Linked DNA regions of Homo sapiens: regions 1 and 3 are each linked to region 2. The links come from fine-mapping of genetic effects on plasma protein levels. A gene starts in region 2. Each other region holds a variant in brackets. All regions are shown on one strand. Distances are from middle to middle. Region 1 overlaps LAMC1 (laminin subunit gamma 1). Region 2 holds the start of NPL (N-acetylneuraminate pyruvate lyase). Region 3 has its middle 21 kb from the start of LAMC1-AS1.

What was found. PIP is the posterior inclusion probability: the model's chance that the variant is causal. Protein levels are from antibody-based Olink assays in UK Biobank. Linkage for the fine-mapping came from a reference panel and not from the study's own genotypes, which makes the PIPs less certain.
Region 1: its variant is fine-mapped to the plasma level of the NPL protein (UK Biobank, PIP above 0.99).
Region 3: its variant is fine-mapped to the plasma level of the NPL protein (UK Biobank, PIP above 0.99).

What each region holds. Positions count from the first base shown.
Region 1 is chr1:183,124,179-183,132,178 of GRCh38, forward strand. It overlaps LAMC1 (laminin subunit gamma 1), which reads left to right. Exons shown (of 28, transcript NM_002293.4): 14 at 453-698; 15 at 1,219-1,372; 16 at 1,942-2,084; 17 at 3,048-3,226; 18 at 4,416-4,572; 19 at 6,166-6,371; 20 at 7,121-7,200. Among named protein-coding and RNA genes, the nearest start is that of LAMC1-AS1, 13 kb to the right of the region's middle. The variant C/T (reference allele first, on the strand shown) is at 3,112.
Region 2 is chr1:182,785,935-182,794,209 of GRCh38, forward strand. It overlaps NPL (N-acetylneuraminate pyruvate lyase), which reads left to right and starts at 3,839. Exons shown (of 13, transcript NM_030769.3): 1 at 3,839-3,871; 2 at 6,298-6,352. RefSeq lists an enhancer at 3,492-3,992.
Region 3 is chr1:183,157,958-183,166,232 of GRCh38, forward strand. No RefSeq gene overlaps it. Among named protein-coding and RNA genes, the nearest start is that of LAMC1-AS1, 21 kb to the left of the region's middle. RefSeq lists an enhancer at 1,157-1,658. The variant T/A (reference allele first, on the strand shown) is at 4,416.

The DNA.
Region 1 (8,000 bases), 340 kb after region 2:
CACATGCCTCTTACATTTTAAGAGAATGGTTCTGCTCACCCTGTTGTGTGGGAAACTTACAGTGTCAAGAGTGGCACTTCACCTCTTTTAATATCATCTGCCAAAACAACATATATGAATGTGCCATCCTTTGAGACTGGAGAAGTTTATAAACCTTGGGCTTGACTCATTTACCGAGCACTTTTAATACATGATTTGGGTTGATTGTCACAACAATTAAAGTGAAGTAGGCAGACCAGGTGCTTCCTGTCTAGTGAGGAAATAGAGATGTGCTCAAGGTCACTCTGGTGGTCTGGCCCCGTGCCAGGGCTGCAGCCCAGGTCCTCTGCCCTCCACTGCACCATGTCTTCTCTCATGTGATGATTACACTAGATTACCTGTAGCCAGTGGTAATCTAGCACCAAAAATGTCTAAGGCCTTTCTTTCATAACATCAGATTGTCTCATCCCCAGGTAAGAGATGTGAGCTCTGTGATGATGGCTACTTTGGAGACCCCCTGGGTAGAAACGGCCCTGTGAGACTTTGCCGCCTGTGCCAGTGCAGTGACAACATCGATCCCAATGCAGTTGGAAATTGCAATCGCTTGACGGGAGAATGCCTGAAGTGCATCTATAACACTGCTGGCTTCTATTGTGACCGGTGCAAAGACGGATTTTTTGGAAATCCCCTGGCTCCCAATCCAGCAGACAAATGCAAAGGTAATCAGCCTTTGATCAGATTCTGTCACAGCTAAATGCCCCTTTATTGTGAGAATTCTTGTGTGTCTCTTAAAATATGTATAGTTGTTTAGTCCAATAGAAATACATTGTGAACCGCTTTTGTCTTTTAAAATTTTCTAGTCACCACATTAAAAAAGTATAAAGAAGGACAGTCATGGTGGCTGACACCTGTGGTCCTGTAAAAAGAAACAGGTGAAATGAATACTAATGTATTTTATTTAATATATCCAACATATGATTTCAATAAGTAATCAATAAAAATTGTTAATGAAATATATGTTTTTTCTCACGCTAAGCCTTCAAAATCCAGTGTGTATCTCACGTTTATAGCACATCTCAATTCAGACTCACCAGCCACATTTAAAGTGCTCAGTAGCCACATGTGACAGCAGCTACCAACCTGGCAACACAGGTCTAAAGAATCTCTTTAGGTTGTTTATATTTTAGTATTTCTCTCAGGTGATTTGTGTCTTTTGCCATCTCTGTCTTCCTGCCTTAGCCTGCAATTGCAATCTGTATGGGACCATGAAGCAGCAGAGCAGCTGTAACCCCGTGACGGGGCAGTGTGAATGTTTGCCTCACGTGACTGGCCAGGACTGTGGTGCTTGTGACCCTGGATTCTACAATCTGCAGAGTGGGCAAGGCTGTGAGAGGTGAGACATAGGTGCCTTTGGTGAAAGTAATCTTTGCTTTTTCTGTTATAAAAAATGAATTTTTATAAGTACATTTAATAATTGACTGTTCAGAAATTACTGGAGCGCCTAATGTAGGCAAGGCATCCTTCAGGGGCAGTGCTGGAGAATTGTAATAAAGCTAATGAAAGAAAGGAGTGGAGCACAGTGGCCCCAGCTGTGCCAGAATCACCTGAGCAACCTTTTAAAAGCACAAATTGCCGGGTCCTTTCTGAGGCACTTAGAATCAGACCCTTCAGGGTTGCAGCCTGGGAACTTCTGTTTTCAAAGCTGCTACTTAGTGTCCATACAGTCCCAGGCTGGAGAGCACTGGTAGCAGTTAAGTTAGGAAAAGAGGTTCTGAATAGCACTCATGAAAATTACTTGAACCTTAGGGGCTTAATAACCCTTAACATTCCATCTTAGTAACCCTTACCATTCAGTTTTCTGATACAAGTTACAAATTACATCAGTGCTATACTAAAAAAAAAAAAAAGTTGTGCTTAAAGTCTGTTTTTCTTGCCTGAGAAATGTCCTGTGTTCATTTTCAGGTGTGACTGCCATGCCTTGGGCTCCACCAATGGGCAGTGTGACATCCGCACCGGCCAGTGTGAGTGCCAGCCCGGCATCACTGGTCAGCACTGTGAGCGCTGTGAGGTCAACCACTTTGGGTTTGGACCTGAAGGCTGCAAACGTAAGGGGTGTTGGTGGCATACAACTCTAAGCTTCCACTAATTCCAGTTAGTGTCTTAAGGCCAGAAAGGACTTTGACAGCCTCAGTCTAGCCACTTGACTCATAGTCAGGGCTGTACCTAAGTCATCGTAGATGCTTTATTTGAAGAATATTATCCATTTCTAAAACTCTGCAGATCAAAGCCTTCTCTGGTTTCTTTGTATGTTTTCTTTTACAACGTTTCTGATGCTTCCTTTTTCCAATCTTTTATTTTTTCCAAGGAAGTCTTCCTTTGATTACTGAGCTTTCCCACTGTGGTTCATGAAACTTCTTTATTGATTGCATTCTTAGTGCAGATAATGAAATAGTGGAGGATTCTGTTCACAACATGTTTGTTGACTTGCTGTAGTTGCTTCCCACCCTTGGGGCCCTTTTGGTATGATTACGTGTAAACATCTGCTTCTCCTTGGCATAAACACTTGCCTGGAATTGGGCCTCAGAACAGATTGGCTTTTGCTTTCTGAATTCCTTCATTTCTCCTGTGGAATGTAGCATAAGTAATTGACTCAGTTCAGAGAACACAGTGAATAAACAAACTATAAGATAATGCAAAAGAAGCATTAGCATTTGGGTTTTCTAGTTCCTTAGAGAAATATTAAACAGTGGAGAATTGAAGGTAGAGATGAATCCTTGAAGTGCATGAAACGAGCACTGATAGTTTCATAACTTCTCTAATTGCTAAGTAACCTGAAGTGTGTCCCAAAGGTTGCACGTTTTACTTTAAAGCTCATTTTGACTTTTAAAAATGTCAGTTTTCTCTGCTAAACAGACTTAGCCATTTAAGATCTCATAAATAGTCCTGTTTTTCAAAAAAATTATGACAGTATAGTCAGCTTATAGTCAGCTTATTGTTATCAGTCTGAATTAAGAGATATACTCTTCCTTCTTTTGCTAATTATGTATTATTTTCTCCTTATTCTGCAGCCTGTGACTGTCATCCTGAGGGATCTCTTTCACTTCAGTGCAAAGATGATGGTCGCTGTGAATG[C/T]AGAGAAGGCTTTGTGGGAAATCGCTGTGACCAGTGTGAAGAAAACTATTTCTACAATCGGTCTTGGCCTGGCTGCCAGGAATGTCCAGCTTGTTACCGGCTGGTAAAGGATAAGGTAAGCTGTCAATAGTGCATTCATTCATTCATCCAGCAGACGTTGAGTGGCAACTTACTGTGCACTAATCTCTATAGAAAAAGTGGTGAACAAGGTAGATGTGGTCCCTGTTCTTAAAGACTTATGTTCCAGTTGGGAGGCAAATAATAAAAAATAAATAAATAAACAAAACAAACACTGAGATAAGTGCCAGGAAGAATACAAATGGAGAATAACTGGGGGAAACTACTTTATGTAAGGCCTCTCTACAGAATTCATCTAAGGTGAGATCTGATGGATACAAAGGAATGAGCCGAGTGAAAAGTAATGGTAGGTTTGTTCCAGGCAGAAGGAACCTGGTATACAGAGGCCTGAAAGCTGGAGAGTGGCTGGAGCCTGCTGAGTGCAGAGGGTGTGTTCTGTTTTTTAAGACGGGAGAGGTTGGTACGGACAGGTTATATGGGAACATGATGACCATAGTAAGAAGTTTAGATTTTATCCCAAATCCAATAAGAATGCATTGAAGAAACTCTTAAAATCTGGGAAATCCAGATTATATTTTAAGAGGAGCACTCTTGACTGATGTGTGAAGAATGATGGTTAGGAATGGGGCTTAATGGGAAGCCTCAATTGGATTGGATAAATATGCGTGTTTGGGGACAGGATAGGAAAAGAGAAGAATAAGGATGTGTCTTGGGTTTTTTGCTTAAGGTAGCTGGAGGCCTTATTTACTGAGATGGAGATTCCTCAGAGAGAATAGAGGTAAGAGGTATAATTTTGGATGTTAAGTTTGAGATACCTATCAGAGAGCTGAGTGGAGGTATCACGAAGGTAATCTGACACTCAAGGGAGAGGTCAGAGCTTAAGACTCATCAGCATACAGTCTTTAAAGTCAAAGGAACAGCTCTGAAGGTTTTTTTTGAAGCTGGAAAAATAAACTAGCCACGTCTTCTCTTCAGAAGTAGACATGCATGGAGTGGATAGAACTACATATTCATGCAGCACACCAACATGGCACATGTATACATATGTAACAAACCTGCATGTTGTGCACATGTATCCTAAAACTTAAAGTATAATAATAATTAAAAAAAAAAAAAAAGAACTACATATTCATGGAGTGCCCATGATTCCTGCAGGAAGTGTGATTGAGTTCTTCAGGAATACTTGTGTGTCCTACCTTTCCCTTTTCTTTCTTCTTTATGTTTAGGTTGCTGATCATAGAGTGAAGCTCCAGGAATTAGAGAGTCTCATAGCAAACCTTGGAACTGGGGATGAGATGGTGACAGATCAAGCCTTCGAGGATAGACTAAAGGAAGCAGAGAGGGAAGTTATGGACCTCCTTCGTGAGGCCCAGGATGTCAAAGGTACGCATGATTGAACAGTGCATGACTTCTGTGAGATGGACCAATCTTTAGATGTGGCTCCTAAAGCAAGGTTAGTATAGTTTTATAAAATTCTTTCTCAGTTTTTAAACTACTCATAGATTATAAATCATTTCATTTTTTAAACACTAATTCAAAAAGCAACCTGACAAATTTACTGCTTTAAGCTACAGTAAGCATAGGGTGATTTTCCAACAAATAAAAAACTATTCGATATTCAAATTTCAAGCATTTTATGAATCTGTTCTATTACAAGGTGTCTTAAAATATTAAAATAGTTTTAAAAATCATTAAAGGCATGCGTCTTCATAAGCTTTTTTTTTTTTTTTTTTTTTTTGAGCCACAATCACTCTGTTGCCCAGGCTGGAGTGCAGTGGCGCGATCTTGGCTCACTGCAACCTCCACCTCCTGGGTTCAAGTGATTCTCCTGCCTCAGCCTCCCAAGTACCTGGGACTACAGGCACATGCCCACCATGCCCGGGGTAATTTTTTTGTATTTTGAGTAGAGATGGCGGTTCACCGTGTTAGCCAGGATGGTCTCGATCTCCTGACCTCGTGATTTGCCCACCTCAGCCTCCCAAAGTGCTGGGATTACAGGCTTGAGCCACTGCGCCCAGCCAAAAAATTTTTACATTATCAAATAATTGAGTAACCTTCCAAGCAGGACCACCATATATAGTTAGGCAAGAGTTTGTAGAATGTCACCTCTGCACATACATTTGGTAGCCAAGTTCCAAGTTGGTTTTTTCCAAACCTGTATTCATCTTCATTGGTCTTACCTTTGACTTCTCATCTTTTTTTTTTTTTCCCACATTCCTTAGAAAATTTAGACCCCAACACCGAGCATGATGCTGAAATATGAATTGGTCAATTTACTTAATGGTTTTTATATATTAATAAAACCTCATGATACATGAGAGTTTTAATAATAACAGACTTATATTTATCTTTTGATTTGTTAGGACCTGAGTATGAGATTTAAGTTGAATGAGCATATTAATAAAGAATAATTTGAAGAACTATTCAAAAACAGAGATCAGTTTGAAAGAAATTACACTGATATGCTGGCACATGGGGGTGGCAAAAGAGTCTATTTAGTTTAAAATACAAAATGAGTTTAATTTGTCATACTTCAACTTATGTTTTAAACCTAGTTTTTTCTGGGTTTTGAAAAATGTTCGGCTTTTAGGGCTGGCAGCATTTTTAACAACATTGTAGATTTATGACTAAATTGCATGTGCTGGTATTAAAGTCAGTCATTCTCACCTTCATTAAACATTCCTTGGGTGTCTTCTCTTTGCCAACCACTGCATAAGACCAGCGATATAGTGGTGAGTAAGAAAGAGTTCGTAGTCAAGTGGACAGATGGACGCACGGTTGGAGGTGTGATGAGTGCACAGTGAAGGACCTACTGGGTGTGGTAAAGGCTGTCCAGCTATGGCAGGGGCTTTGTGGAAACCTGGCAGAAAGTTGCGATGTTTAGAAGAGTAGAGATACATAGGGCCTCAGATTTCATGTGAGATGATATGATCCTCTTCAGATAATTTACAGACTTTCTTCTGCAAACCATTTTAGATGTTGACCAGAATTTGATGGATCGCCTACAGAGAGTGAATAACACTCTGTCCAGCCAAATTAGCCGTTTACAGAATATCCGGAATACCATTGAAGAGACTGGAAACTTGGCTGAACAAGCGCGTGCCCATGTAGAGAACACAGAGCGGTTGATTGAAATCGCATCCAGAGAACTTGAGAAAGCAAAAGTCGCTGCTGCCAATGTGGTAAGTGATTGCAAACGTCTGAGGTGGGGATGGGGGAGGCCCCTGGGGTTTGTAGCAAGTCTGTTACTGGCAGTGGAGTGCTTCTTCAACTAAATTGACTCCATGCATCTTTTTATTTGTCCCTAAATATGGGGCAGAAAAGCCACATTGCTCATAGTTGGCATGAAACAGTTATTAAAAACTGGATAAAAACCAAGGGACATCTGGGTTATTTCTCTAGCTTTGTTCCTTCTATGGAACTAGGCAGTTTAATCTTCCTTTATCCTTTACTGAAAATAGAATCTGCAATCAAGGGTGCTGATATTAAATAAAGATCTCTGAAAATAAGAAGAGGTATTCTTGGGGCCAGGCGCGGTGGCTCACGCCTGTAATCCCAGCACTTTGGGAGGCCGAGGCGGGTGGATCACCTGAGGTCGAGAGTTCGAGACCAGCTTGACCAACATGGAGAAACCCCGTCTCTACTAAAAATACAAAATTAGCCGGGTATGGTGGTGCATGCCTGTAATCCCGGCTACTTGGGAGGCTAAGGCAGGAGAACCACTTGAACCCAGGAAGCAGAGGTTGCGGTGAACTGAAATTGTGCCATTGCCCTTCTGCCTGGGCAACAAGAGTGAAACTATCTCAAAAAAAAAAAAAAAAAAGGTAGAGGCATTCTTTTTGCCCTCTAACAAAAATTTAGTTTTGACTCTTGCTTTATTAAATGTAAATAATTCAGTCCTTTGAGAATAAGTGCTTTATTTCCTGTGCAGTCAGTCACTCAGCCAGAATCTACAGGGGACCCAAACAACATGACTCTTTTGGCAGAAGAGGCTCGAAAGCTTGCTGAACGGTAACTTCTAGATCCCTGTTTAATGGTTAAGTTGTGGCTTCTGTTATGGGGTGTGTGTGTGTGTGTGTGTGTGTGTGTGTGTATTGTCTTATCCCATAACCCATAAACACTTTCTACATAACCCACTTTTGCACACTTTGCTCTCTTTTCTAAGATATTATCAGCTGTGTATACTCTTTTCTTCCTTTTACTTTGACATTAGAATATTCACTTTGAATATTAGAATACAATGGTTTGAAGACAAATCATATTTATATTTCTCAAAACCATAATATTTTTAGATTTTTAACTTATTTAAGACTGTAGTAACTGAATGAAACTAGCAGATTGTTGTTAATAAAGATTAGGCATGGGATTTGTTTTTAACTAGGTAAATGATTTCTTGCTGGCATACACAATTTTATATGTACATTACTCTCAAATAATTAAATTTAAAAGTAGTTTTTCTGAAGAATTATAAACATTTTCTCTTATAAATGTATACCAATAATTTTTTTGGAAAATATTCTCATCTCAGTTTTAGAATGCTATTCATAAATTCAGCCCCACTGAAATGATCACAAAATTCCAAATGAATGACGTTTTCTAATATTTGTAGAATTGTTGCCCATGTTAGTATATGTACATATAATAAAGTAGGCCGGGAGCAGTGGCTCATGCCTGTAATCCCAGCACTTTGGGAGGCCAAGGCGGGTGGATCACCTAAGGTCAGGAGTTTGAGACCAGCCTGGCCAACATGGCGAAACCCATCTCTACTAAAGATGCATTAGCTGGGCATGGTGTGTATGCGTGTAATACCA
Region 2 (8,275 bases):
CCTTGTATCTACAAAAAATAAATAGAAAATTAGCCAGATGCAGCACACGATTATAGTCCCAGCTACTTAGGAGGTTGAGGTGGGAGGATAGCTTGAGCCTGGGAGGTCAAAGGTACAGTGAGCTGTGGTCATGTCACTGCACTCTAGCCTAGGTAACAGAGTGAGAGCCCGTCTCAAAACACACACACACACACACACACACACCATATAATTCCATTTATATGAAATGTCCAGAATGGGCAAATCTATAGAAATAGATTAGTGGCGGCCAGGCACAGTGGCTCACGCCTGTAATCCTAACACTTTGGGAGGCTGAGGTGGGCGGATCACCTGAGGTTGGGAGTTTGAGACCAGCCTGACCAACATGGAGATACCCCGCCTCTACTAAAAATACAAAATTAGCCTGGCATGGTGGCGCATGCCTGTAATCCCAGCTACTCCAGAGGCTGAGGCAGGAGAATCACCTGGGAGCCAGAGGTTGTGGTGAGCCAAGATTGCATCATTGCACTCCAGCCTGGGCAACCAAAAAAAAAAGTAAGAAGAAAGAAAGAAATAGATTGGTGGCTGCTTATGGCTGGGGGTGGGGAGGGGGAAATAGAAAAATGAGTGACTACTAATGGCTAGGGTTTTATTGGAGGGAGTGATGAAAATGTTCTAAAATGGTGACACAAGTTGCACAATTCTGTGAATAGACTAAACTACTGAACTATTATACACTTAAATGAATTGTATCATAGTGAAATATATGTCAATAAAGTCGTTACTTAAAAATCTGGAGTCACAGATCTTAGGTTTAAGAATGCCAAATATGGAAGTATATCTCTTGTGTTCAACTCATTTTTTTCCTTCTAGCTCTTTCTCCTTAAGAACCCAGTAAGCATTCACTAAAGGGCTAAGCCAAAAGACAGCTGAGCATGGCCGCACTATGCTGCCCCCTCCTGGGATCCCAAAGGATCTTCTGAACCCAAGCTTATGCACAGGACTTTTCCCTTCTCAAGAGATGTCCCTCTCCTAGTTAGCACTCACGCTCAGAAGATAAACCCTAAAGGACAAGGGTTTTTGTCTCAGGGCCAGCAATCAGTTCAACTTCTATTCGTGGCCTGTTCCCTTCTCTGAAGACCTCTGGACTCTGATGAAAAAATAAACCCTACCTTTTCCATCAGCCCCATTGACACACCCATACAAGCCAGAATTTCCAGAAGTGACTCTCATACCCGGTTACGCATTCTTCACAGTGAATGGAACAGACTCTTGTCCACCTGTGGACAGACCTTTTACTGGAACACAATGGGTAACAACACTTCAAGATCCAACTTAGGTCTCCTTCCTTCATAAGTGTTCCGCAATTTAGCAGTGTTTCAGTTGTTGAAAACCCATTTTCTCTTTTCAGGTTAGTATAGCCTTACCAGAAGATAAGGGGAAACTTTCTGGGGGACCACCCCTCACCCACAGTCAGTTCAGGAGCCTGTGATGGGGGCATCACCTCCAGCTCCAAGGATAGAACATATGACTGTTCTGACCAAGTTCATTGCACCATATCTCCCAAGCTCTTTCCCCTGCACCAGTGGGTTTCAAATTTGAATTGTAGCAAACAAAATCTGATACAAAACCCTGACATACATTTGTTTTAAACAAAGAAGAGTTGATGGTAGTAATATTTCTAAATCTCACCCTCTTGGCCTGCACTTGGATAGACACTATGTCCTGCACTGTGGGAAAAACAAAGGAATAGGACATGATGCCTGCCTTGAACACCTTGCAGTGGAGTTGGGGGCAAGAAACAAAAGCAAGAAAATTAATGATTAAATAATACTACATAATAATAGAAGAAATCTCACAGAGACTGCCGCTTATCAGAAGGGGGTTAGAGGCCTGCAGTTCAGCACTGAGCCTTTTGTTGCCTCTCTTCTTCTAAGCCCTACTCATTGTCTGATATTTAGCTTGGCTGTGACCTTCCCCAGTAAGACGTTTCTGGAACACCCTCCTGCCTCTTCACACACACACACACACACACACACACACACACCACCCCCTTCAGCCCAGATTAGAGCTCAGTGTTCCTGTAATATCTCTGTACAGTCTATCACTGCATTTACCATATTTTAAAACAACGTCTCCCCAACACTTCACAGTATAGGCTCTGAGTTTCATAACGGCACAGAGTGGATACTGTAAGAATGCAGTGAGACTCTCCCTACTCCATGCTCCTTTCTTCCATCTTTTGTTCCACAGATGTCAGCCCTACATCAGTCTGCAGGCTGCTCCTGTCTGCTCCAAATCCCTCCCCCAGTAAGTTTCTTGCACATCTAATCCCATCTTAGCATCTGCTTCTTGGTAGACACTAACAAATTATTATAAGGAATTACTTTGCACTACCATATTTATACAAAAAGTAGTTAGTTCATGCATTTAGAATATTGGTTTGTTGGTTGACAATGTTAAGCCTAATGACCTATACCTTTTGGGTACTGACATACTTAATTTTGCACTTATTAAACTGTGACTTTCCAAAAAAAAAAAAAACTTTCATTGTACCATTAGGATATAATATTCTTGTTAATATTACAAAAACCAAACCAAAACAAAAACCATGCTGCAGCCTTAGGAGAACTTGCTTCATGTAACTAAGGGTTTTTCTTTTTCTTTTCTTTTTGTATTTTTTTTTCCTGTAGGATAACATAGTGTTAAAAGCACAAGCTTCTGGACTACTTGAAATCAAACCACAGCTTAACCAGCTCTATGGCTTTTGGCAAATTACTTCAACTCTTTAAACCTGTTTCTGATCTGTAAAATGGAATGATCCTTGCTCATCTGTAATATATACATTTATAAAACAGGACCCACCAATGGGATTATTTTATGAATTAAATGTTAAAACAGCTAGAACGGTGCAGGCTGAGTAAGCACTGAACACAGTACTTATTAGCTATTATCTCTGGTGCTCTGTGCAACGAAAGAACTATTAGAATACATTTAAAAGCACTTTGCAAACTAGAAAGCCCTTTGAACAATTTAGTTTCTCTAAATGTAATAATAAGCATCAGCCATCGCCTTTTATGGAAAATTGAGGTGGAATCACATCAGCAAGAGAAAACTGAGGACTTGTCTCTGGCTCTGTTCCTGATTTATTCACACAGTACATGATCCTAGAATAAGACTCCTGATACTCCTGAAAGTAGAGGCGGTTGGGTTAAAAATAATTTTCCCTTTCAAAACTCTTTCAAATGTTCTCCAAAAGAAGCCAGGAAAGCTCCCGTATGAGTAGATAATTCACTTTAAAATTCGCTCATCTCTCTTTAACACGAGAGTCTGCAGGGCTGGTGCAGCGGCGTCAACCCGAAGAGACCTGAACGCCGATGGGCAGTTGGGATTCTCCGTACGCCTCGGAAACAGCAGCCCAAACCTCACAACGCAGAACCACGAGATAGTGGGGATTGCAGAGCCCTGCGCAAGAGAAGGAAAATTAAGACGCAGCGGAGCCCAGGAGGTGCCCGCACGCGGGAAGGACTGGCGTGCAGACGAGGCAGGGGGAGGTTTGCACTCGGCGTGGCGCGGGTGAGCCGCGTGCTCTCGGGCACCCGGCCGCCAGTTCGGATGCTTCCGATCCTCGGGGAGCCGGGGCGCTGCGCCGGAGTCACTTCAGCCCATGTTGTTCAGGTGACACCCGGGGAAGAGCAGACTCCAGTGTGCAAAACGTTTCGGGGTTTCCGGGCCAGCGGTTCCGGGCGCGCCTCGCGGGCGGCGGCGCAGAACTACAACCCCCAGGCTCCCTGGCGTGGCGGCACGTGGGCCCGAGCCGGGCGGCCGCGGATATAAAGCGCGGCGGCGGCTGCCGGGCGGAGCGGCTGCACGGACAAGAGCGGAGGCCTGGGTGAGCGCGGCCCGCGACGGCACGGGCTAGGACAGACGGACGCAGACGGCCCGACGACCTGGGCGTTCGGGCGGAGGGGCGCTGGGGCCTGACTCGCGGGTGGGTGAGACGTTGACGGACCCGGAGGAAAGAGGGAAGGCAGATACGCTGGGAAACGGATCTGGGGAAGGTGTGAATGCGAAAAGTGTAGGGACAGACGGGGGCAGAAGAACTTACTCCCCCGGATTGTTTGCAGACAGCATATCTGCCGGGTCTCCAAAGGTCCTTTCCTCAAAATAGAGTTAGCAATTGAGCAGAAGAGAGCTTAAAGTTAAACCTGATACATCCCCCCTTCACTTGAGGAGAAATTGGTGGTTTTCTGCTTTTTTAAAAATCCCTATTTGTATCTCCTCTTCTCCGAGTACCTGTCCCTCAAGATATTCTCTGCCCAGAGGTACATTCTGCCCTCACTTTCTGTCTCTTAAAAAAACAACTTTGCCATTTAAAAAAGAATTTGACTTAGGCAGCTTTAATTCTTTGCACTGAGTGTTCTTATCTGTGGATGGAGGTATAAGATTTCAAGAGTAATACCCCCTCCCAATGTTTCAGTAATAATCTAAATTCACATTAAGCCTTAGGCTGGAGAACATTTGAGCTATTCGCTTTAGCTACGAGCTCTGAAAACTTCAAAGCATAACATTCCCAAGTTTATCTAAAACTTGAATCTTAAAAATAATGATAATTATCTGTTATGCTTCAAAGCATAACATTCCCAAGTTTATTAAAAACTTGAATCTTAAAAATACTGATCATTCTCTGTTAAAGTCTTTTGTTGTTGTTGTTGTTGTTGTTGTTGTTGTTGTTGTTGTTGTTTTTGAGACGGAGTCTCGCTCTTGTCGCCCAGGCCGGACTGCAGTGGCGCTATCTCGGCTCACTGCAAGCTCCACCTCCCAGGTTCACGCCATTCTCCTGCCTCAGCCTCCCGAGTAGCTGGGACTACAGGCTCCCGCCACCACGCCCGGCTAATTTTGTATTTTTAGTAGAGACGGGGTTTGGCCATGTTGGCCAGGCTGGTCTCGAACTCCTGACCTCAGGTGATCCGCCCACCTCGGCCTCCCAAAGTGCTGGGATTACAGGCTTGAGCCACCGCGCCCGGCCAAAGTCGTTTTTATCCCATTTCTTCCTGTAGGCGTTTCAAAGTTTGCAAAGGCAGCAAACTTTTACGTAGTGTAGTTATCTGTGCAAAGAAATTTTCCAAGCTGCCATTGCCCCCAGATGGCAGACAGTCTAGGAGAGGAGCCAAAACCACCCTGCTTAATAACTCTGATGTAAGGTTTTTAATGAAAAGCCACTGTTTGGGGGAATTCTGAGGTTTAAGAAATTATTTTCGGCTGGGGTATCAGGAAATCCCCTGGTTTTTAAAATGAGAGGTTTTTTGGTTTTTGTTTGTTTTTGTTTTTAAGCTATACCTGCTGGAATGGATAAAGTGAGCTTTAAAAGTTGATCAGACCGAAGAGATTGAAGTGAGAGAACCACAGGAACAAAGGCAAGCAGACAGACAGTGAAAGGTAGATAGGAGGAACAGCAAACAGTTTGTTCAGCTGGGCAAGTATAGTGCAGGCACGAAGATTTCAATAGAGACCCAGACCCCAGGGAGCTGGTTCTTTAGCCTACTGGCATTTTCTAAACAGGACAAAGACAAGACCAGAAATGCTGGTGTTACTGGAAGATTAATCTGACAGCTGGTGTGGATTGAAGAAGAGAAGAGGGATTAGGACAGTGATTCCTAACCCCTATCCTACACTCCCAACGGCCCCTTGTTTTGAATTTTTGAACTAATCAAACTACATTTGTGGTAATTAGTTTTATTTCTTTCCATTAAAGACATATAAAACTGCCAATTTGAGCTTCTGATGATTCTAAGAACATCAGTGTTACCGTCCTTAGTATCAAATAAATGCAGGCAAAAGCACAAGACTACGGAGTTTTATTTAGCCTGAACAGCCTAGTAGTGTTGGATTTAGGAGGTGTTTAATGCTGACTCAAGCTCTCAGGACTCTTATCACTTGAACCTTCTTGGGCCCTGTGGACCTGGGGTTTTGCCTATTTGTCTAGATAAGAGGTAACGAAGGGAAAAATTATAAAGGCGAAAGGAGGAATAGCAGGGGAAGAAGATAACAGAATTGAAATGACTTAGTCCCTAAATAGACAAGAGTAGTGAGTGTTGGAAAGGAGGCACTAGCAGAGCAGAGATGACTGGGAAGATGATGCTGGTAAGGGCATGATAGTATTTTCTACTGTCCTATACACATCAGGCAAGACTTCATGGAGAGCACTGAACACGTACTCACTATGTGCCTAGCATTGTTGTTAATCACTTTACATGAATTAGTTCATTTAATTCTCTCAACCCTATGAAATATAATTACTATTATCCTCATTTACAGAAGGGGAAACTGAAGCAGAAAGAGGTTACTTAATGGGCTCAAGGTCACCTACCTGGTAAGTGGTGGAGCCAGGATGCAGATCCATGAGGTCTGACTCCAGAGCTGGCCCTCTCACCCCTCTACAGTAAGGAACAAAGGAGATGGCAGGTCCCTTTGGGCATGTTAAGTTGAGATGTTTGTGGGAGTGCTAGGTGAAGATATACAGCAGGCATAGCATCAATCTCCTTTGATACTTAAACATCCCTCCAGTGGGGAGATGGCTTAGGTTATGGGCCTTTAAGGCTCAGAGGCTAAGTGGCCTGCTTATTGTACTGAGGGTGGTCACATGAAGCTCAAAGAGTGATTAGAGCCACATCTTATGATTTATTATCTTGTGTTTTCCCATGGGCCAGGTTATTGGATTCATCTTTCTAAACTTCCAATCTGCTTTTAGTCTCATGTTTGAACTAGGAAATACAGAGCAAAGCTACATGCAGGACTTGGTCTTGATTTTAGGAGCAACTCTTGCTGAGAACATGTCTGTTTGCAAGGAAAGTATCGTGTTGTCTTTCTACTGAAAACAGTCAGTGTTTCTCAAGGGCTTACCTGAGCCAAGACTCTTGGGGAAGAAAAATAGAAGATATGGTCTCTGTACTTCAGAAGTTTATTCTCCTATTTGGGAAGATAAGATGAACAATTAGAAGAGCAAACAAAACAAGATAGCTTATAACTAAGTACTACATTATGTGGGTTAGATTTAAGTATAGTGGGCATTGCATTTTTGAATGTGCCAGTAATGTCAGAACTATAGCATAACCCTTCTTGTTGGTCACCTACAGACATCACTTTATTTGCTACAAGACCACTATCTTTTGTAGAATTGTCATCAAATACTATCTGATTATATTTTATTTTCATTTTCAATTGTTAGACATTAAATTTGTGGTCTGAAATTGCATTTGTGGCTTTTTATGTCTTATAGCTCAAAAAACAATAATGCTTCTAGAACTAGCAAATGTCAGAGCTGTGAGTTGAACCAGGTGGTCTGCCTATGGAACTGAGGCTGTTAACCAGTCTGCTCTGTTGCTTCTTGTGGCCCATCCAGAGTCTTTTACACTGATTATGGGCAGGTACACTCTCTGCCAGATGGTGAGAGATCCTTTGGCCCCAAATGAGTGGTGTGAGTTGGACTCTTCCAGCAGTGCGCTACCCATCTGTGGAAGCCATCATCCAGTCACAGTCTGAACACCTCGTTCAGTCACCCACATATTCTTCGCTCTTGAATTGAACACCTGGTGTCAAGCAGAGGGCTCACTGCAGAGAGCAAAGGCAAATGAAACATCCCTGTCCTGGGAGCCTGCTGTAGTGGGGAAGAGGGAGGTGAATATGCAGTCTACATGGTTAACTAGAACTAGGAAAACTGGACAAAACTGGGCAAAATTAGGATATAAAAAGATAGGTAAATCTGAAGGTAGTTATGTAAATCATGATGAAACCTTAAGACAGGCTTGTTTTAGGTGAGATTCTAAGAATGAAGACAATGGAAAGAGAAAATGTCCCCTTTTATGACCATATTTCAGTTTAAGTAATAGTACAGTTGACCCTTGAATTACGTTGATTTGAAGTGTGCAGGTCCATTTACACAGATTTTTTTCAACCAAATACGGATAGAAAATCAGTATTTGCAGGATGCAGAATTCTCATATGCCAGGCTTGGGGCTGACTGTGTGACTTGAGTAGGCATGGATTTTGGTATACACGAAGGTCCTGGAACTGATCTTCTGTGTATACTGAGGCATGACTATAATTCACTGTATGTTTTACTTACCTGAGTTAGGTTCAAGCTCTTTCTTGGGTCTGCTGCTGTTAACCTCTATCCTTTGAGGTGTTAGATTGCTTCCATCATCTGTATAGCTAAAATGGGAGACTGTCCACGTAGTATTTTCTCAAGTCTACCCTCTCCTGTCTTAAAGTTTCCTCCTCAATAGAATTAAGCACT
Region 3 (8,275 bases), 370 kb after region 2:
GGTCTGTATTCCCAGAGAGAACTCATGCTCCCTATGCTCATTGTCCATGTTCTAGTTTTTGGCTGATCATGTTGGCCACTCTTGTAATGTGATGTTGTTCTCATAAAACCAGTGACGGCCAGGCACAGTGGCTCATGCCTGTAATCCCAGCACTTTGGGAGGCCAGGGCAGGTGGATCACCTGAGGTCAGGAGTTTGAGACCAGCCTGGCCAACATGGTGAAACCCCATCTCTACTAAAAATACAAAAAATTGGCCAGGCGTGGTGGCGGGCGCCTGTAGTCCCAGCTACTCGGGAGGTTGAGGCAGAAGAATCACTTGAGCCTGGGAGGTGGAGGTTGCAGTGAGCAGAGATTGTGCCACTGCACTCCAGCCTGGGCGGTAGAGTGAGACTCGGTCTCAAAAAACAAACAAACAAACAAAAAACCACACACACACAAAAACCAATGACAACATAGCAAGTTTTTGGTTATTTCAAGCTCTCGTTGCTTATTTGAGGCTTTAAAGTGCCTAGTCATTAATCAGGGCCCAGAGTATAAAGATCTTACCATGTTGACATCAAAAGCATACCAATGGTAGTCTACTGGTGTCTTACTAAATTCTAAGGAAGGTCTGTCAAAAACTATTGAGGGCTTTATTATGCTCTTGCACTGAGCTTTATGAGGGTTGAATAGGTAATAAGACCAAGTTTGTATTTGCACAGGATTGTGGACTGCAGAACATCTCCAAGAGTGGTGGTTCTCAAAGTGAAGCTCTGGGCCCAGCAACATCTGTCTTGCCCGGGAACCTCTTAGAAATGCATTGTCAAACCCCACCCTAGACCGACTGAATCAGACAGTAGGGGTGGAAGGATTCAGAACAGTCTGGGTTTAATAAGCCCCTCACCTAAGTGATTCATCACATCTAATATATCTAGTAACTAGTGTACTGGTTCTTAACAATTTTCCCCCTGGTGTTAGCTTTCACCATTTGTATATCCTATGTGTCTGCATGTTGAACTCAACCAGACATTATCTTTACTTTCAGCTGCCCTTGCTAGGAAACAGGTTGCAACCTCTTTGAATTAGGAAGAGAGAAGTTCAGAATGTGTCTGTGCTCATCACAGAGTTAGAAACAATGAATGTTAACTCTTCTCTGAGTTTCTTAAGAAACTGAGATACTCTAAGCATTGTATAAACATTGACTTGGTTAATTAATCAAGATGTTCCATCTATGGAAGACAAAAGCCTTCTGAAAAACTAGGTGGAGACTGATACGACTGATACTGATTTTTAAAAACTTAACATAAGTATTTTAGTTCCCCATCAGTTTCTCTACTTTTCACACGATTTTCTAAATGGCAATTTTTTTTTTTTTTTTTTTGAGATGGAGTCTCCCTCTGTCACCCAGGTTGGAGTGCAGTGGCCCGATCTCGGCTCACTGCAGCCTCTGCCTCCTGGGTTCCAGTGATTCTCCTGCTTCAGTCTCCCAGGCAGCCGGGATTACAGGCCTAAATGGCAATTTCTCTTCATAGATGTGAACAGGCTGAGAGATGGTGGAATGGGCTGGGCTTCCTGGGGTTCATCATTACTCTCTACTGCTAGGACTTGGCACGTTTGTTCTGCATGGTTCCATGAACATAAAATAAAAGCGAGCCAAGTCTTTTAATGTGGGAGATGCATTTGAAATCAGACAACCAGTAAATATACCAAAAGACATCAAAACAAGTTCAAGTAAACCTTAGGCCCTACTGAGTGGCAGCCACCGTTCATGGACAATTTAGGTGTGTGATCTCAGGTTAAATCTCTCAATCTTGCCTGTGTTTCCTGTAAATGGGAACAACACTACCTTATAAAGTACTTCACATAAATGGGTAAGTATATGAAACAATATACAAAATTTAGTATAGTCATGGCAAACAAAGTTTTTGTGGGGCCTGAAGCTTGTACAATTTGGGAGTCCTCTTTAAAAAAAAAAAAAGAATATAGGATTTCAAAAGCAAGCACAGGGCTGGGAAGGGGTCCCTGAGCCCTGCTCTCCTCGCACAGGAAATCCACCTTTGTGCAGTTACTCTGTTTATTTTAAGCCAGGGGAGAGCAGAGCAATTGCTTCCTTCATGTGGAGGTGTCCATCAGTGGCTCCGTCACTGGGCGTGTGCATGACTGTACTTCCCTCTGCCGCAGACACCTCAGCCACCGTCTAGCCAGGCAAACCTGTTTGGTGTGCTCACTGCATGATGAAGGCGGGTGTGGCTCCCAGTGGGAGTGTCCCGCCTCCAGAACATGGCCAGAGGCTACAGAATCAGACTTTTGCCAAAGGAAGAAAGAGCGCCTGAAGCATGTGTTCACCGGGCAACTATGAATGGCTTGACTGGGTGGAGCCTTCAGTATCTTTTTAGTTAAGCCTTTTAGTCTCAAAAATGGAAGAGGCAAAGCTCAATTCTTAAAGATCACTTCTTTTTTTTTTTTGAGGCGGAGTCTCGCTCGGTCGCCCAAGCTGGAGTGCAGTGGCACGATCTCGGCTCACTGCAAACTCCGCCTCCCGGGTTCACGCCTTTCTCCTGCCTCAGCCTCCCGAGTAGCTGGGACTACAGGCGCCCGCCACCGCGCCCAGCTAATTTTTTTGTGTGTTTTTAGTAGAGACGGGGTTTCACCGTGTTAGCCAGGATGCTCTCGATCTCCTGACCCCATGATCCGCCCATCTGGGCCTCCCAAAGTGCTGGGATTGCAGGCGTGAGCCACGGCGCCTGGCCAAGATCACTTCTTAAAAGAGAATTCCATCTGCCTCCACCCGCATCACATTGCATATCAGAAATGGTAGTTTTGGGGTTGCCCTCAGACCCGAGCCTGCTCCAAACAGAACACAAACTGAACAGCAAGAACATAGACCTCGACTTTTCAGCCAGGACTTGGTGCTAGCTTTATTTTTATGAAAACAAAACAAAACAGCAACAACAACCAAAACAATGCTATTTCATTGAGTTGAAAGATCTAAACTCTTTTTTTTTTTTTTTTTTTTTTTTGAGACTGAGTCTTGCTCTGTCGCTCAGGCTGGAGTGCAGTGGCGCAATCCCAGCCGACTGCAACCTCTGTCTCCCAGGTTCAAGTGATTCTCCTGCCTCAGCCTCCTGAGTAGCTGGGACTACAGGAACCCGCCACCATGCCTGGCTAATTTTTGTATTTTTAGTAGAGACGGGGTTTCACCGTGTTAGCCAGGATGGTCTCGATCTCCTGACCTCGTGATCGGCCCACCTTGGCCCCCCAAAATGCTGGGATTACCGGAGTGAGCCACCGCGCCCAGCCAGGGGAGAAAGTTCTATGAAGAAAAATAAAGCTGGGAAGGGAGAGAGAACATGTTTGGGGGTAGGGTGAGCTTACAAATTTATACAAGATGGTAGAGAAAGCCTCTTTAAGAAAATGGCATTTAATTGAAGACTGGACCCATGTAGATATCTAGAGAAAGCACATTCCAGGCAGAGGCACCAGCAAGGGAAAAGGTCCTGCAGTGGAAGTGGTCCCGTGGCTGGGGCTGTGTGAGAAGGAGGACAGTGAGACCCATGGGGTGGGAGGTGGGGCAGGACACATAGTATTGGCTCTTGAGGCCATTCCAAAGACTTTGGCTTTTACTCAGAATGAGATAGAATGCCACTGGATGCCTCTATAACAAGGAATGACATGACCTGAGTCACACTATAATAGGAGTTTCCTGGCAGTTGTGTTAAGGTAGACCAAAGTGGGACAAGGGCAAAAGTAGGGCGAGGAGATGGGATGCAATGACAATCATCCATGCAAAAGACAAGGGGGGGCTGGAATCAACGTGATTACAGTGGAGGTTGATGAGAAGTGATCCAATTCTGATTATGATCTGAAGGTAGAGTAAGACAGCAAGATTTTCTATGGAAGAAAAGAGTCAAGAATGACTTCAAGATTCTTGGACTGAACAAGGGTATGGAAGACTGAGGCAGAAGAGGTCTAGGGGGACAGAACATCAGGAGTTCAGCTCTGCATGTATTACATTGGTGATATTAATTACCCATCTAAATGGAGATTTCGATTATGCAGTTAGATATATGAGCATAGTGTTCAGGACAGCTGTGCAAGCAGGCTGAAGACATAAATTTGAAAGTCATCAGCATATATGCTTAAAGCTTTGAAACTAGGTGGGAAAATCAAAGGAGTGAGCGTAGACATAAAAGAGATTCAAGGCCTGAGCTTCTGGTGGCTTCTTCTACCTTAAGGGGCACTTCTATGTTAAGAGGTGGAGAGAAAAGGATTCAGCAAAGTAGACTGAGAAGGAGATGCCTCATGGAGAAAAGCCTTATGAGCACAATGTCCTGGAAACCAAGAAAAGAAAGTGTTTTAAGGAGAAAGAAATGATCAGTTATGTTAAATGATGCTGTCAGAGCCAAGAAGATTATGGCTGAGAATTGGCCATTGAG[T/A]TTACAACATGGAAGGCCCTGGAGACCTAGGTATAGGCAGTTTCATTGGAATAATGGAGGCAAAAACCTAATTGCCATGGAGAGGTTTCTTGAAACCTAATTGCAGCAGTTTCAAGAGAGACTAGGAGAACAGAAACTGGGGAGAGTCAGTATGGACAACTCTTTCGTATTGCTCTAAAGGGGAGCAGAAAAATAGGGCAGAAGCTAAAGTATAGCATGGGTTCAAGGCAGTCGTTTTGTTTTTTTGAGATAGGAAAAACCAACAGCATGTTGTAGGCAGGCGGGCAATATCCTAGAAGAAAGAAAAAAACCAACGATGCAGGTAGAGAATCCCTGAGTGCAGTCCTTGATGAGGGCAAGGGAGGAGCCCTCCTGTTGACCTGAGATGGGATATGTGATCATGGGGAAGGTAGGCAAATTGTGGGATGTGGCTGTAGAAGTGTGTGGTAGAAGTTCTCTTCTGAGTACTTCTGGGTTTTTGTGTGTCTTAGGAAATAAATCATTAGCAGAGTGACATGGGGGAGGAAGAGTGGAAGGTTTGAAGAAAAAGGGAAAGTGTGAAACGGTCTTTGAGGAGAACAGGAAAGCCAATGGACTGGGGAAATGGATCTGATGGCCAGGTAGTATTAAGAACCCCTTGAAGCTAATGAACGTGAATTCAAAGTGAGGCAGTAAGTTGTGGGTGTGTGTGAAGGATGGATTCTAATGACTAACCATGGAATTTAAAATGGGTTAGGAGGGCTATGATGGTAAAGGAAGGTGGGAGAAGTGCAAAGGTGGCAGGTTCAATGGATCGTAGGCTCCAGAGGGTTGAGATATTATTAAAGTCTGGGCACTCGAGTGACTGAGCTTCAAGAATCAACGGTGGTGATTAGAGACGGGGTGCTTGAAACTGAGGTTGTGGAAAAAGTACACGTGATTGAAATGGCACCATCTAGATGTGATCACAGTAGTGAGTAGCTGAAGTAGGTGTTTTACTAGATAATTTGTTTGGTTAAGTAATCACACTTTTCTCTCTTTCAATCCTGTCCCAGTTGAAGCCACTTCAGTACATTGTCCTGAAGTTTTATTTCTCAAATAAAGCCTAACGAAATATTTATTCACTTTGTCAGCCCATAGGCCATGAATGACACATCGTGACTCATGGATGTCCTGGCTCTTTGCATCCTGCACACAGACACATGATGGACACTTGATGAGACTCCTTGATACAAAAGGGTGGGTTTGAGTCCCACATGAACACTAGCGTGCATGCTTGGGGTTGATGAAGTACACTTGTGTAATTTTTGTAAAGCCAATGGTTTAAATAGGGATATCTGATTTACTCTAACCAAATATCAGATTACTGTATTTCCTTTTGTGGTTCCATGTGCATTCTGCAAACTAGCATTCTTTTAGTGTACCTCTGCAGGCAAAGAATTTGGAAACTACATACCTATAAAACATTAATCAAAGCCCTTAGATTGACTGGATCCCACCCACCACTCTCCCCGCTGAGCAATTGAGTTAATTAAAAGAAAAATATCTCAAGAATATAAGCTCATATCAATAATCTCATTTAAAAAAATAAACAAAGATTTCCAAAATTCCAAGTGAGCAAAGGGTGAGCAAAACTTTGACTTATACTGTCTGTATTAACTATAGTGCTGAATAAAAATAATGGTTAAGAATGAACAAGATCCAAAATCTTCCAGAAAGATCATAATAATCATGCTTTAGATAGTGGGTGACACATTGAGGACACCTAATTTGTTAAATGAAGGTGTGAGTGTGCCTAATCTGGAAATGAAGTGCCATACTTTAGAAAAATACTGTTAGCAGGGGTATAGTTGGCCAGAAACCACTTGCAACACCAACATGTTCTTCCCTGAACTTTCTGTGTAATGAAGGCAGTTCTCCATTTGCTGCATTTGTAGGAAATGGGGAAACTGAGGAGGCTCTGAAATGGCCATGAGAATTCTTTTTAAGAATCTTCACCACAATTACACTGGAGCTGTTCAAGGACTTTTTTCCTTCTGCTCATTTTAATGGCCTGAGATAATAGATCAAAATGAAGGCCTGTCCTCAGATGTGTATGAAAGCACAGAAGAACAGGATAAGACAGGAATCAAGGCCTCTACCACTGGGGAATGCAGGTTGCTATATACCAGGCAATGGGTGGGTTTCCAAGGAGATGTGTCAGAGCCTTGGAATGCTGCAACTGGGCTGTGCCTGACCCAAGGTGGGGGCGGGTGCAAGGAACCTGCTGGCACATTAGAGGTCTTTTCTTCTGGAGGCAAACTTTGGAGAAATGTACAACACTAGCCTATGTCTGTAAGTTCATGCTTTGGGAACAAAGTTTGAATTGCTTTCAGAGAAAAAAAATATACTGATGGGGTGAAGATAATGGTGGCTAATTTTGATCTGACCAAACAGATATAAAAACTACAGGCTGATCCAACAATAATCTTCTCCCATTTTCTTTCAAATGAGCAACCCTAAAGCATATACTTTTTAGTTTTACAAGGAAGGAGTCTCTCCAAGGAAAAGTTCAAGTGGATTTTTGGTTACCCAGCAAATTATTCTAATTAAGACATGGCTTTTATTCTAAAAATAATAATAATAATAATAATAAAAGGGTGTGTGTATGTGTATGATTTTTAAGAGCATGTTAATTCTAGGACAGTCTGAACATCTGTGTCTTAGGAGAGGCATGTTTTAGGAGATTGCCTCCTTTTGGAGGAGGGGCAGGATGCCTGCCTACAAAGGGCGCCCAGTGGCCTGGAACACCAAAAGCACATTCTCAGGGCATGCAGAGGTAACTGGTTGAAACTTGCCAAAGGATGCTTTTCCATTTGGCTCACAGCAATTCATTTATATTGGTTTTGACCATCCCACTCATTTTATTTTTAAGTCCTTATTCATTTTCGGGCCTTTCCGTATAGGGTTAGCAAGGAATTACTAATTCCGGATCTGCCCACTGTGACACTCAACTAGAAGATTAAGTCAGGTTTTAGAAACCTTGTTTTTGTCATATTTCCCCCATGCCCAGGCTTAAGAACACTCCAAATACTAATAATTACAGGAAATTCCATCAATTTGGGGGAATTGGCTTTAGACTATTTTTTAGTTGGTGTTCAGTGAAAATAAAATAATTCATTCAAGTAAAGACTAGATGGGAAAAATTACTTGAGGAGAAAAGACAAATCTCCCTTACAGAGGAACTACAAATAATTTATGTAGATGTTCTGCCCTCAAGGAGATGCAGGATAACTCACACTCCTTAAGTGTGGGCAGCACATAGCGAATTCCTCTCAGAGCACAGTATTGAAAAGGGCGGGGAGAGTCATGTTACCATGGGCAACACTACAAACTACTTCACCCAGGGGCTCCAGAGTAACCCCAACAGTGGGAAGTACTCTTGACACAATGAAATGAAAATGGCACTTGCCTCTGTGGTCTTCCTCACCAAAACTAGTAACCCTGTTCTATTATAATCATGAGAAAAACATCAGACAAACCTCAACTGAAGGATGTTCTACAAAACGCCTGCCCATTACTCCTCCAAACTATCAAGGCCGTCAAAAAACACGGACAGTCTGAGAAACTGTCACAGCCACGAGGAGTCTAAGGTGACAACCAAGTGTAACGTGATATCCTGGATGGAACCCCGGAACAGAAAAAGGACATTGGGTAAAAACTGAAGAAAATATGAAGAGAATACGAACTTTATTTATTTATTTATTTATTTTTTTGAGATGGAATCTCACTCTGTTGCCCAGGCTGGAGTGCAGTGGCACAGTCTTAGCTCACCATAACCTCTGCCTCCCGGGTTCAAGCAATTATCTGCCTCAGCCTCCCGAGTAGCTGGGACTACAGTT